Linked DNA regions of Homo sapiens: region 2 is linked to region 1. The links come from fine-mapping of genetic effects on plasma protein levels. A gene starts in region 1. The other region holds a variant in brackets. All regions are shown on one strand. Distances are between the middles of the regions. Region 1 holds the start of ADAMTS13 (ADAM metallopeptidase with thrombospondin type 1 motif 13). Region 2 overlaps ADAMTS13 (ADAM metallopeptidase with thrombospondin type 1 motif 13).

What was found. PIP is the chance, under the fine-mapping model, that this variant and not a neighbour inherited with it causes the effect. Protein levels are from the aptamer-based SomaScan assay of Sun 2018.
Region 2: its variant is fine-mapped to the plasma level of the ADAMTS13 protein (Sun 2018, PIP 0.95).

Annotation. Positions count from the first base shown.
Region 1 is chr9:133,419,250-133,424,249 of GRCh38, forward strand. ADAMTS13 (ADAM metallopeptidase with thrombospondin type 1 motif 13) reads left to right here and starts at 3,118. Exons shown (of 29, transcript NM_139027.6): 1 at 3,118-3,299; 2 at 3,852-3,918. The coding sequence starts at 3,195. RefSeq lists enhancers at 2,273-2,412, 2,643-2,692, 2,813-2,872.
Region 2 is chr9:133,433,841-133,439,349 of GRCh38, forward strand. It overlaps ADAMTS13 (ADAM metallopeptidase with thrombospondin type 1 motif 13), which reads left to right. Exons shown (of 29, transcript NM_139027.6): 12 at 2,989-3,115; 13 at 3,909-4,057; 14 at 4,406-4,526. Among named protein-coding and RNA genes, the nearest start is that of ADAMTS13, 14 kb to the left of the region's middle. The variant C/T (reference allele first, on the strand shown) is at 760.

The DNA of each region.
Region 1 (5,000 bases):
TCTCAATAAATGTCTGCGGGGAGCAGGGTGAAGTATGGGGGTGGAGCCATGAGCTCCTTTTCACACTTGCTGAGTTTGAACGGGCCGTCAGTCACCAAGGAGAGACGTCTAATCAGCAGCAGGATATAAGATTCCTAAGCTTAGGGAAGGGTCAGTGCTGGAGATGTAATTTGGAAATCGTCAGCACATAATTAGTGTTGAAACATGAACCTGGGTTAGTTCATCCAAAGAGAGAGTACCAATATAGGGAGTGAAGGGTTAAGACCAGATAGCAGGTGCTGGGGGCTCTCCAGGGGCGAAGCAGCAGAGGAGGCTGAGGGGGAGCAGTCAGTGCAGTGGGAGGAGAAGCGGATGTGAGTGGCATCAGAGAATCCAGGGGGAGAATAAACCACATCAGATGCTGCTGAGAGGCTGAGAAGGACGAGGACAGAGAGATGGGAACCAGATATGGCACTGAGATTGTCAGCAAGTCCACCGAAAAGGGTTTTCTTTTTTTTTGTTTGTTTTGAGACGGAGTCTTGCTCTGCTGCCCAGGCTGGAGTGCAGTGGCGTGATATCGGCTCACCACAATCTCCACCTCCCGGGTTCAAGCGATTCTCCTGCCTCAGCCTCCTGGGTAGCTGGAACTACAGGTGCACGCCACCATGCCCAGCTAATTTTTTTTTTTTTTTTGAGACGAAGTTATGCTCTTGTCGCCCAGGCTGGAGTGCAATGGCGCAATCTCGGCTCACCGCAACCTCCACCTCCCGGGTTCAAGTGATTCTTCTGCCTCAGCCTCCCGAGTAGCTGGGATTACAGGCATGTGCCACCACGCCCGGCTAATTTTGTACTTTTAGTAGAGATGGGGTTTCTCCATGTTGGCCAGGCTGGTATGGATCTCCAGACATCAGGTGATCCTCTCGCCTCAGCCTCCCAAAGTGTTGGGATTACAGGCGTGAGCCACCGCACCTAGCCTAATTTTTGTATTTTTGAAAAGAGACGGGGTTTCACTATGCTGGCCAGGCTGATCTCGAACTCCTGACCTCATGATCCGCGTGCCTCGTGATCCACCTGCCTCGGCCTCCCAAAGTGCTGGGATTAAAGGCGTGAGCCACCACACCTGGCCCAGGTTTTCTTTTTAAAAAAGGAAAAAAACTTTGTTCCAGCAGTTTGTAAACCAGGGCAATGCAGCCTTCTGTACAAAGGTGCATTCCAGGGAACAAAGAGAACAAAGAAAGAGGTCGTCTTTTGTAGAGAACTTCCTGCCCAGGTTCCCACTTTGGTCCACTTATGCAAATGAGGAAGGCACACTTGCTTAGTTCTGATTGGTTAATACTTGCTGAGTTCAGATTGGTCGATGCAGGTCACAGTCGATGGGTTGATTCTGGCGGCATAAACAGGAACAGATAGCTGTGAAACCATCCCAGAGTTAAGTGAGAGTGGGGGCTTTCCAGGAACGCAGAATGTGTGTGTGACCCTAGTCAGCAAATGGCTGCTAGGTCCTACTTTGAATTTAGGCCCAGTTAGTAACTTGGGATCCATCAAGAAGGATTGGCTCTTTCAGGGTTCACAAAGTTATTGGTGACCTTTTAAAGATCAATTTCAATGGTATGTGGGAATTGAAGGCAAGGAAGTGGAGATAGCCACTGAAAATAATGTTTCTAAGTTCTTAAAGACAGCCAGAAACAGGGCTATGGCAGGAGGACAGTGTGGGTCAAGGGAAGGTTGTTGATTGTAATCAAGAGACACCAGAGTGTCTGGGCTTGGTGGCTCATGCCTGTAATCCCAGCACTTTGGGAGGCCGAGGCAGTCAGCTCACCTGAGGTCAGGAGTTTGAGACCAGCTTGGCCAACATGGCGAAACCCCACCTCTACTAAAAATACAAAAACTAGCCAGGCGTGATGGCGGGTGCCTGTAATCCCAGCCACAAGGGAGGCTGAGGCAGGAGAATCACTTGAACCTGGGTGGCGGAGGTTGCAGTGAGCCGAGATCGTGCCACTGCACTCCAGCCTGGGTGACACAGCAAGACTCTGTCTCAAAAAACAAACAAAAACCAAAAAGAGACAGGAGAGTCATTCATGCTGATGGAGTGAGCCAGGTACCAGGATCTCGATATCTAAGCATGCCCCCTTCTCCAACAGCCTCCTTACCTTCCTGCATGAAAGCACACCCTTCCCTCCAGTCCCCCATTCCTTTATTCTGCTGTATTTTTCTCCATAACACTTACCACCTTTGAACATACTACATATACAACATGTGTCTGTCTAGCAACTTTGCTGTCTGGCTCTCTTCCCTAGAATTTAAGCTGTGAGAGGCCGAGGCTGCTGTCTGCCTGGCTTGGGGCTGCTTTCCTGGTGTCTAGCACAGAGCCTGGCCTGTTTCAGGGGCTCAGTGAAACATTTGTTGGCTGAAGGAATGAATGAATGGCTCTAGCAGAGGGGCAGAAACTAACGATGCAGGAGGAGAGAGCTGGGAAGGGATCCAGAGCCAGGGCCTGGCAGGAAGTGTAGGTGTGTCCTCCCTGATCGCAGAGGAGGAGAGAGGCTGCACTTTGAGGGGTGGAAAGACAAGGTGAATCCCCCTGCTGGTCATCAGCTTGTGCGGCTCTGTGGGTGTAAAAGAGTGGTTTGGAGCATGTGAAGTGAGTCTTCCAGGAGATGAAGGGGATTGCCAGGCCGTTTGTGATGATGCTGAGATCTGGTGCCGTGCAGCCTGCTTCTGCGACTCTCCTCATCAGGCGCAGGCACAGAGTAGGTGGAGAGTTGAGCCAGAACCACGATGTCTTTGGCACAGCCTCTCATCTGTCAGATGGGAGCGGGGACCCCGGAGAGGGAGTCAGCCGAGGTCCTGGCATTCCTTGTGAACCCCCGTCTGTGGGTTTCTGGTCCAGTGTCCCTTCTCCAGATTAGATGGCTTAGGCCTCCTCTAAGGGGGTGGGCGTGCACATCCGGAGAGCTGTCTGGTGTGCAGGACTGGGCTGCAGGTTACCCTGAACTGCAACCATCTTAGAGCAAGGCCCAGCTTGCAGCAGGAGGAGCTGCAGGCCGCCCACCCTAGCCACGGCCCCTGCCCTGGCAGGAAGCTTCCAAGAGTAAACACTGCCTAATCGTCCCGCCCAGTAGTGAGCAGGCCTGTCCCATTCCATACTGACCAGATTCCCAGTCACCAAGGCCCCCTCTCACTCCGCTCCACTCCTCGGGCTGGCTCTCCTGAGGATGCACCAGCGTCACCCCCGGGCAAGATGCCCTCCCCTCTGTGTGGCCGGAATCCTTGCCTGTGGCTTTCTCCTGGGCTGCTGGGGACCCTCCCATTTCCAGCAGGTGGGCTCATTTGCAGGAGCGGGGGTATTCTGGGAGCCTCTGGGTGGGGTATTCTGAGCTACCTGGGGCGAGGGGAGTGCCAAATAGCTGACTACATCAGCTTTGGGGTTTGCGCTGGGCAGGGGAGTCTGTACTTGGGGCTTTGGGGGATGAAGTGTGCTCACTGAAGAGGGAGTTGGTGTCTCAGTACGACCTGCTCATTCGGTGAAGCTGAACAGACAGATACTAGTTTGTCCCAAACTGTGTAGGTTGCTCTTCTCTGCCTCTCCCTTCCTCTCCCTGTCTCTGATTTCCCCCTCTCCTTCTTGGTTGGCCTCACCCACCTCCTGCCTCCTGTCTCCCTCTTCATCCATCTCTTTTTGTTCTTTTTTCTTTCTCTCTCTCTCTTTTTTTTTTTTTTTTTTTTTTTAAGACATGGGGTCTTGTTATGTTGCCCCAGCTGGTCTCAAACTCCTGGACTCAAGTGATCCTCCCACCTCGGTCTCCCCAAGTGTTAGGATTACAGGCCAGAGCCACTATGCCCGGCCCCATCCATCTCTTTTTGTCTTGCAGAGTTGTCTTCAGGCTTTGGAGCCACAGGCCGTGTCTTCTTACTTGAGCCCTGGTGCTCCCTTAAAAGGTACTTGTCCTGGTGTCTTCTCTCCCGGGGGGAGTTTCTCAGGACTTTCAAGGGGTATCTCACCACTGAGTCAGTGGTCTGGGATTTTTGGTGGATCTGGAAGGAGAAGGTCAGAGAAGCTGCTGTCAACCCTGTTAATTAACTCTGTTACTTCCTGCCAAGTTGATATAAGCTGGTCTGGGTGTTCCAGCCAGGCCAGGGTTCTCACCCTAGCTTCTGTTAAATATCACAAGGGAACGGTCACCGATTGGCTGGCCCCTCCTGCCCCATGGCCTCTGCTGAGCTGGCTGATTTTCAGGAGCTCTTGTGGTTTCTGACCGTGGATGTAAATATTTATTCCTTCTGTGGGAAACAAGATAGGTACTGGCTCAGGCTACCTCCTAAGGCCATGGATTTCCTTATGATAAAGGCCTGTCCCCATTGCCCACAGGCCCATGTCTGTGACCTTCTCCGGTGCGAGCCCCCTTCCCAGTAGGGCCATTGGCAACTTGACTAATGGCTGATGGGGGCCAGAGGCAGGTGGGCTAGTGGTCAGGGGCAACAGGAGGGCAAGGCCCACTTTGTGACCTGGTTCTTTGTGGTCTAGGCCAGAGGCACACTGACCAGTGCCTGGGGCCACGCTGGGGGCTGGATGCAGCCGACGCTGTCTGGGTATCCCATAGCCTGGGTCCTTCCAGCGCTGCCGCTCCTGAAAGGCTGGGAGATCATTGCCCAGGGTCCCTGACCCTCTAAGGGCTCCCTTGGGAGAGGACAGTGAGGGCTGGCCTGGGCCCCTGCTTCCCAAGAGACCACTGGGCTCCACTCGTGTTCAGTTTCCTGTCGGGGTCCATGATGTTACTTGTGAAACACCTGTGCCCAGAGCAGGGTCCAGGAGGCAGGGCAGGGGCTTTCCCCTTTGGGCAGAGCCACCAGGGCAGTGGGAATCTTGTCTTGATGGGGTGACCCAAAGCACACAATAGCCCAACAGCTCCTCCTGGGCCCTGCCCTTTGCGTGCCTAGTCACTAATGGGGTCTGGCTCTTGGGGTGGGGGTGACACGCAATGTCTTGACTTCGGAAGGCCATCCTTCCAAGACCTGCCAGC
Region 2 (5,509 bases), 15 kb after region 1:
ATCCCAGCACTTTGGGAGGCCAAGGCAGGTGGATCACCTGAGGTCAGGGGTTCAAGACCAGCCTGGCCAACATGGTGAAATCTCGTCTCTACAGAAAATACAAAAATTAGCCGGGCGTGGTGGTGGGCGCCTGTAGTCCCAGCTACTCGGGAAGCTGAGGCAGGAGAATCACTTGAACCCAGGAGGTAGAGCTTGCAGTGAGCCGAGATTGGGCCATTGCACTCCAGCCTGGGCGACAGAGTGAGACTCTGTCTCAAAAAAAAAATAAAAATTAAAAAAGAGAGAGAAGGACATTGGGACCCCAGTTCATAAACCAGGCCAGTCCTGCTGATGCCCACAGAGCCCCTGAAGCGTCCCGCCTCCCTCCCTGAGTGCCACTTTGCCCTCCAGAGCGCATCTCTGCAGGGAGAACCTCCCCACTAGGAATACAGTGCGCTGCTGCATGCCTGCAAAGGAATTTTTTAAATATTATTTTTATTTTTTTAGACAGAGTCTCTCCCTGTCACCCAGACTGGAGTGCAGTGGTGCTATCTCAGCTCACTGCAACCTCTGCCTCCCAGGTTCAAGCGATTCTCCTGCCTCAGTCTCCTGAGTAGCTGGGACTACAGGTGCCCGCCACCACGCCCGGCTAATTTTTTGTATTTTTAGTAGAGGAGGGGTTTCACCGTGTTAGCCAGGATGGCCTTGATCTCCTGACCTCGTGATCCGCCTGCCTCGGCCTCCCAAAGTGCTGGGATTACAGGTGTCACTGCGCCTGGC[C/T]GAAGGAGTCTTTTATTTATAAATTGAGGTGACATTCATGTAGCATGAAATCAAGCATTTTAAAGTGGCAACTCAGTGGCCTTTAGTACACTCACAAGGTTGGGCAAGTACTGCCTCTGTCTAGTTTCAGAACGTTTCCAGTACTCTGGAGTACTCTGGAGTGAACCCCATATGGTAGGCTGTCACTCCCCATTTCTCCTCCGCCACTCAGCGGCCATTGGTTTCCCTTCTGTCTCTGTGGATTGACCTGTTCTAGACATGCCACGTACCTGAGGCCAGACAACAGGTGTGCTTCCTGCCTGCCTTCCTCCCCCAGCGGCACGTCCCCAAGGCTCACCTGTGTTGTAGCCTGTGTCAGCGCCTCATTCCTCTTTCTGGCTGAATCATATTCCACTGCAGGGATAGACCACATTTTCATCCAGTCGTCTGCTGATGGACATCTGAGGTGTTTTCACCTTTTGGCTCCTGTGAACAGAGCCGCTGCGAATGTGCTTGTACATGTTTGAATCCCTGTTTTCAATTCTTTTGGCAGTATGCTGAAGAGCGGAGTTACTGGATCGTATGGGAATTGTATGTTTGACTTTTTTTTTTCTTTTTTTTTTTTTTGAGACAGAGTCTTGCTCTGTCGCCAGGCTGGAGTGCAGTGGTGCAATCTCAGCTCCCTGCAACCTTCGCCTCCTGGGTTCAAGCGATTCCCCTGCCTCACCTTCCGGAGTAGCTGGGATTACAGGCACGCGCCACCATGCCTGGCTAATTTTTTGTATTTTTAGTAGAGATGGAGTTTCCACCACGTCAGCCAGGATGGTCTGGATCTCCTGACCTCAGGTGATCTGCCCGCCTTGGCCTCCCAAACTGTTGGGATTACAGGCATGAGCCACCGCTCCCGGCCTATGTTTGACTTTTTTTTTTTCTTATTTTTTTCTTTCTTTCTTTATTTTTTTTTTTTTAGAGATGGAGTCTCGCTCTGTCGCCCAAGCTGGAGTGCGGTGGCGCGATCTCGGCTCACTCTAAGCTCCGCCTCCCAGGTTCACCCCATTCTCCTGCCTCAGCTTCCCGAATAGCTGGGACTACAGACGCCCGCCACCACGCCCGGCTAATTTTTTTTTGTATTTTTAGTAGAGGCGGGGTTTCACCATGTTAGCCGGGATGGTCTTGATCTCCTGACCTCGTGATCTGCCTGCCTCGGCCTCCCAAAGGGCTGAGATCACAGGCGTGAGCCACCGCGCCCAGCATGTTTGGCTTTTAAAGAAACTGCCAAACCGTTTTCCACAGTGCCTGAACTGTTTCACATTCCCACCAGCATTGCGCCAGGGTTCCAGTTTCCCCACATCCGCTGCAGCACTTGCTGTTTTCTGTTGTTGTTTTTTCTTTTCTCTTCTTTTTTTTTTTTTTTTTTTTAATAGAGATGGGGTTTTGTCATGTTGGCCAGGCTGGTCTTGAACTCCGACCCCAGGTGATCCGCCCACCTTAGCCTCCCAAAGTGCTGGGATTACACGCGTGAGCCATGGCGCCCGGCCTGTTTTCTGTTTTTTGATTTTGGCCATCTCGGTGGTATGAAATGGTAGAAAGATTCTTTTTACATTGAGTTAAATTCTATCTCCTGCTTCGATGGCCCTGGGTGTGGGTTTGTCCCTGGCTGTATTACAGTTCTGCATGTGGTGAGACCCTCCCTTTCCTCCTTCTCCAAATGGACCACCAAGACCTCCCCAGACCGTGAGGGGAGGGTCTTTGGCTGGAGCACAGGGTGGTGGGATTTCGTGGAGGCAGTGTGGTCAGTGTGGCTGTCCAGGGAGTCAACTCCGGTTATCTTCTGTCAGCCCATAAAAGTCCAAGACGCCTGCCTGAGTGCAGAGGCTTCGGTGGTGAGGTCTTTGCTCCATGCTTTGGTTACCTGCCTCTAGGTGCACTACCTAAAGAATACACATCCCCGTCCCTGTTTTATTGAGTTCAGGCCTTGGAAGCAGAGGCTCTGAGCGTAATGCTCTTTCCTGGCTTTCTTCTTCGTTGCTGCCCTGTGTTCTTTACGGATTCCCCGGGGTTTTCCCATCAATAGAGAGAGGCAGGCACTTTTGTCACCCCAGTTTACAGAGCAGGGAACCGAGGCACGGCCTGGAGCTGAGGCCACACCCACATCTTGATCCTGTACTGTAGGGTGCCATGTAGTCTCCCAGTGACAACACCCGCCCCCCGCCCCACCGCCATCCCCCTCCTCTGCCTCCTCCTGGCCAGGCCTGCGAGAAGACCCAGCTGGAGTTCATGTCGCAACAGTGCGCCAGGACCGACGGCCAGCCGCTGCGCTCCTCCCCTGGCGGCGCCTCCTTCTACCACTGGGGTGCTGCTGTACCACACAGCCAAGGTGGGGCCTGCGGAGTGTGGGGTTGGGGGAGGAGCCAGCCCTGGAGACCCTCGGACAGGGCAGAGTCATAGGGGGGTTGGCCTACTATCCCTCCAGCACTGGGCAAAGTGGTTCAGGCTCTGGCATCCCACAGACCATGGATGACATAGTGGCCAGGCCTCGCTGGTAGATCAGGCACTGACATCCCATCTCTGAGTCTCAATTTCCCATCTGTGAAATGGAGATAATAGCAGTAGGTCCCTCCCTGGGCGCTACAAGGATTCAGGGAGATAATCGGAAAATGCCAAGTGTGTTCCTTGGTTCATGATACTTTTTTTGTGAGACAGAGTCTTGCTCTGTCGCCCAGGCTGGAGTGCAGGGGCGTAATCTCAGCTCACTGTAACCTCCGCCTCTGGGATTCAAGGGATTCTTGCCCCTCAGCCTCTCGAATAGCTGGGACTACAGGCTTGCACTACCATGCCGGCTAATTTTTTTGTATTTTTAGTAGAGATGGGGTTTCGCCATGTTGGCTAGGCTGGTTTCAAACTCCTGACGTCAGGTGATCCGCCTGCCTCGGCTTCCCAAAGTTCTGGGATTACAGGCATGAACCATTGCGCCCAGCCTTGGTTCCTAATTCAATACCATTAATTATTAGATTAGATTAGGATCGTGATTAGGATTATTGCCTTAGGAGGTGGGATGTGGGGAAGATAGAAACCCTTGCCCCAGATGCAAAGGATGAAGCTGGGTGGGGGCTGGGGGACTTGCCCCTCCTGCTCGGTTCAGGACACCCTTTTTCACTCTGCCCTCCCAGGGGATGCTCTGTGCAGACACATGTGCCGGGCCATTGGCGAGAGCTTCATCATGAAGCGTGGAGACAGCTTCCTCGATGGGACCCGGTGTATGCCAAGTGGCCCCCGGGAGGACGGGACCCTGAGCCTGTGTGTGTCGGGCAGCTGCAGGGTAGGCGTGTGTGGACATTGGCGATGGCCCTGGGGCCTACCTGTCCTATCGGAAGGCTCCTGGGGGCAGGTTGGTGGGTGCTGGCCCTGATGGAGCTGCAGTGCCCTCTGCAGGGGAGTGGTGCTGGGGAAAAGGATCTGGACTTGGAGTCAGCCTGGGTTAAGGGCTGCAGTGTGACCTTGGGCAAGTCACTGAGCCCTCTAAGCTTGCTTCCTGTGTAGATGGTGGGGTGCTATAGAAGTGTTGCTGGTTTTGTGGATCCCAGAATCTCAGAGCTGGCAGGGCTGCAGAGTCATTGAGGCCAGCACCCTCCAGTGACACGGGCCCTCTGTCCTTCCCTTTGCATAGACATTTGGCTGTGATGGTAGGATGGACTCCCAGCAGGTATGGGACAGGTGCCAGGTGTGTGGTGGGGACAACAGCACGTGCAGCCCACGGAAGGGCTCTTTCACAGCTGGCAGAGCGAGAGGTAGGCGGCCTCCCTCGGGGCAGAGGCTGGGCTTCCCCCAGCCTCCAAGATGGCCACAGCCCAGAGCGTTGGTGCAGGGGCTGCTCAGGTCACAGGGCCTGCACACTCACTCAGCCCTGGATGCCTCCTGTGGTGTCAGCGTCTCCCTCTTCCACTTCGCCACCCTTCTGTGGCAGGCTCAGGTTTTGGCCTTGATGCTGCTGGGACTGTGGTGCCTCAGTAATGGTCACTCACTGTAGCCGTGCTGCAAAAAAAACACAGACATTGGCCGGGCGCTGTGCTCACGCCTGTACTCCCGGCACTTTGGGAGGCTGAGGCGGGTGGATCACCTGTAGTCGGGAGATCACCTACAGCCTGGCCAGTATGGTGAAACCCCATCTCTACTAAAAATACAAAAATTAGCTGGGCATGATGGCGGGCGCCTGTAGTCCTAGCTACTCAGGAGGCTGAGGCAGGAGAATTGCTTGAACCCAGGAGGCAGAGGTTGCAGTGAGCCGAGATCCCTCTGCACTCCAGCCCGGGCAACAGAGTGAGACACTGTCTCAAAAAAAAAAAAAAAAAAGTATGGACGTTGTGCATTCTGTGGCAGCTACCCTCTTCTCTCCTGCTCAAGAAATCCCACTGAGAGGGACACAAGTGAATGAGAGGGTTGGTAGTTACATTTGGAAAATCTTTGACTTTGGTGTATATATGAGGTCAAAAACCATTTGCAAATGCCAGTGCTTCTATGGAGAGCAGAGACTTGAGCCCTGCCTCCCTCTGGCTTGCCCCACTGTGCTGGAGAACCTTGGACCCGGTCCCTTCTCCCAGCCAGGGCAGAGCCTTGGCAGGTGGTCCTCCAGCCTGCTTTTAATTGCCCCCATGACAGGGGACTCACTGCTGCTGGAGCCAGCCCCATGGCATTGTTCAATTTTTCCCGACCAGCTAAGATCAGCTCCCTTTGTCTGTGGTGTGGTGGCTGTGAGGTCCACGCATCTCTCCTT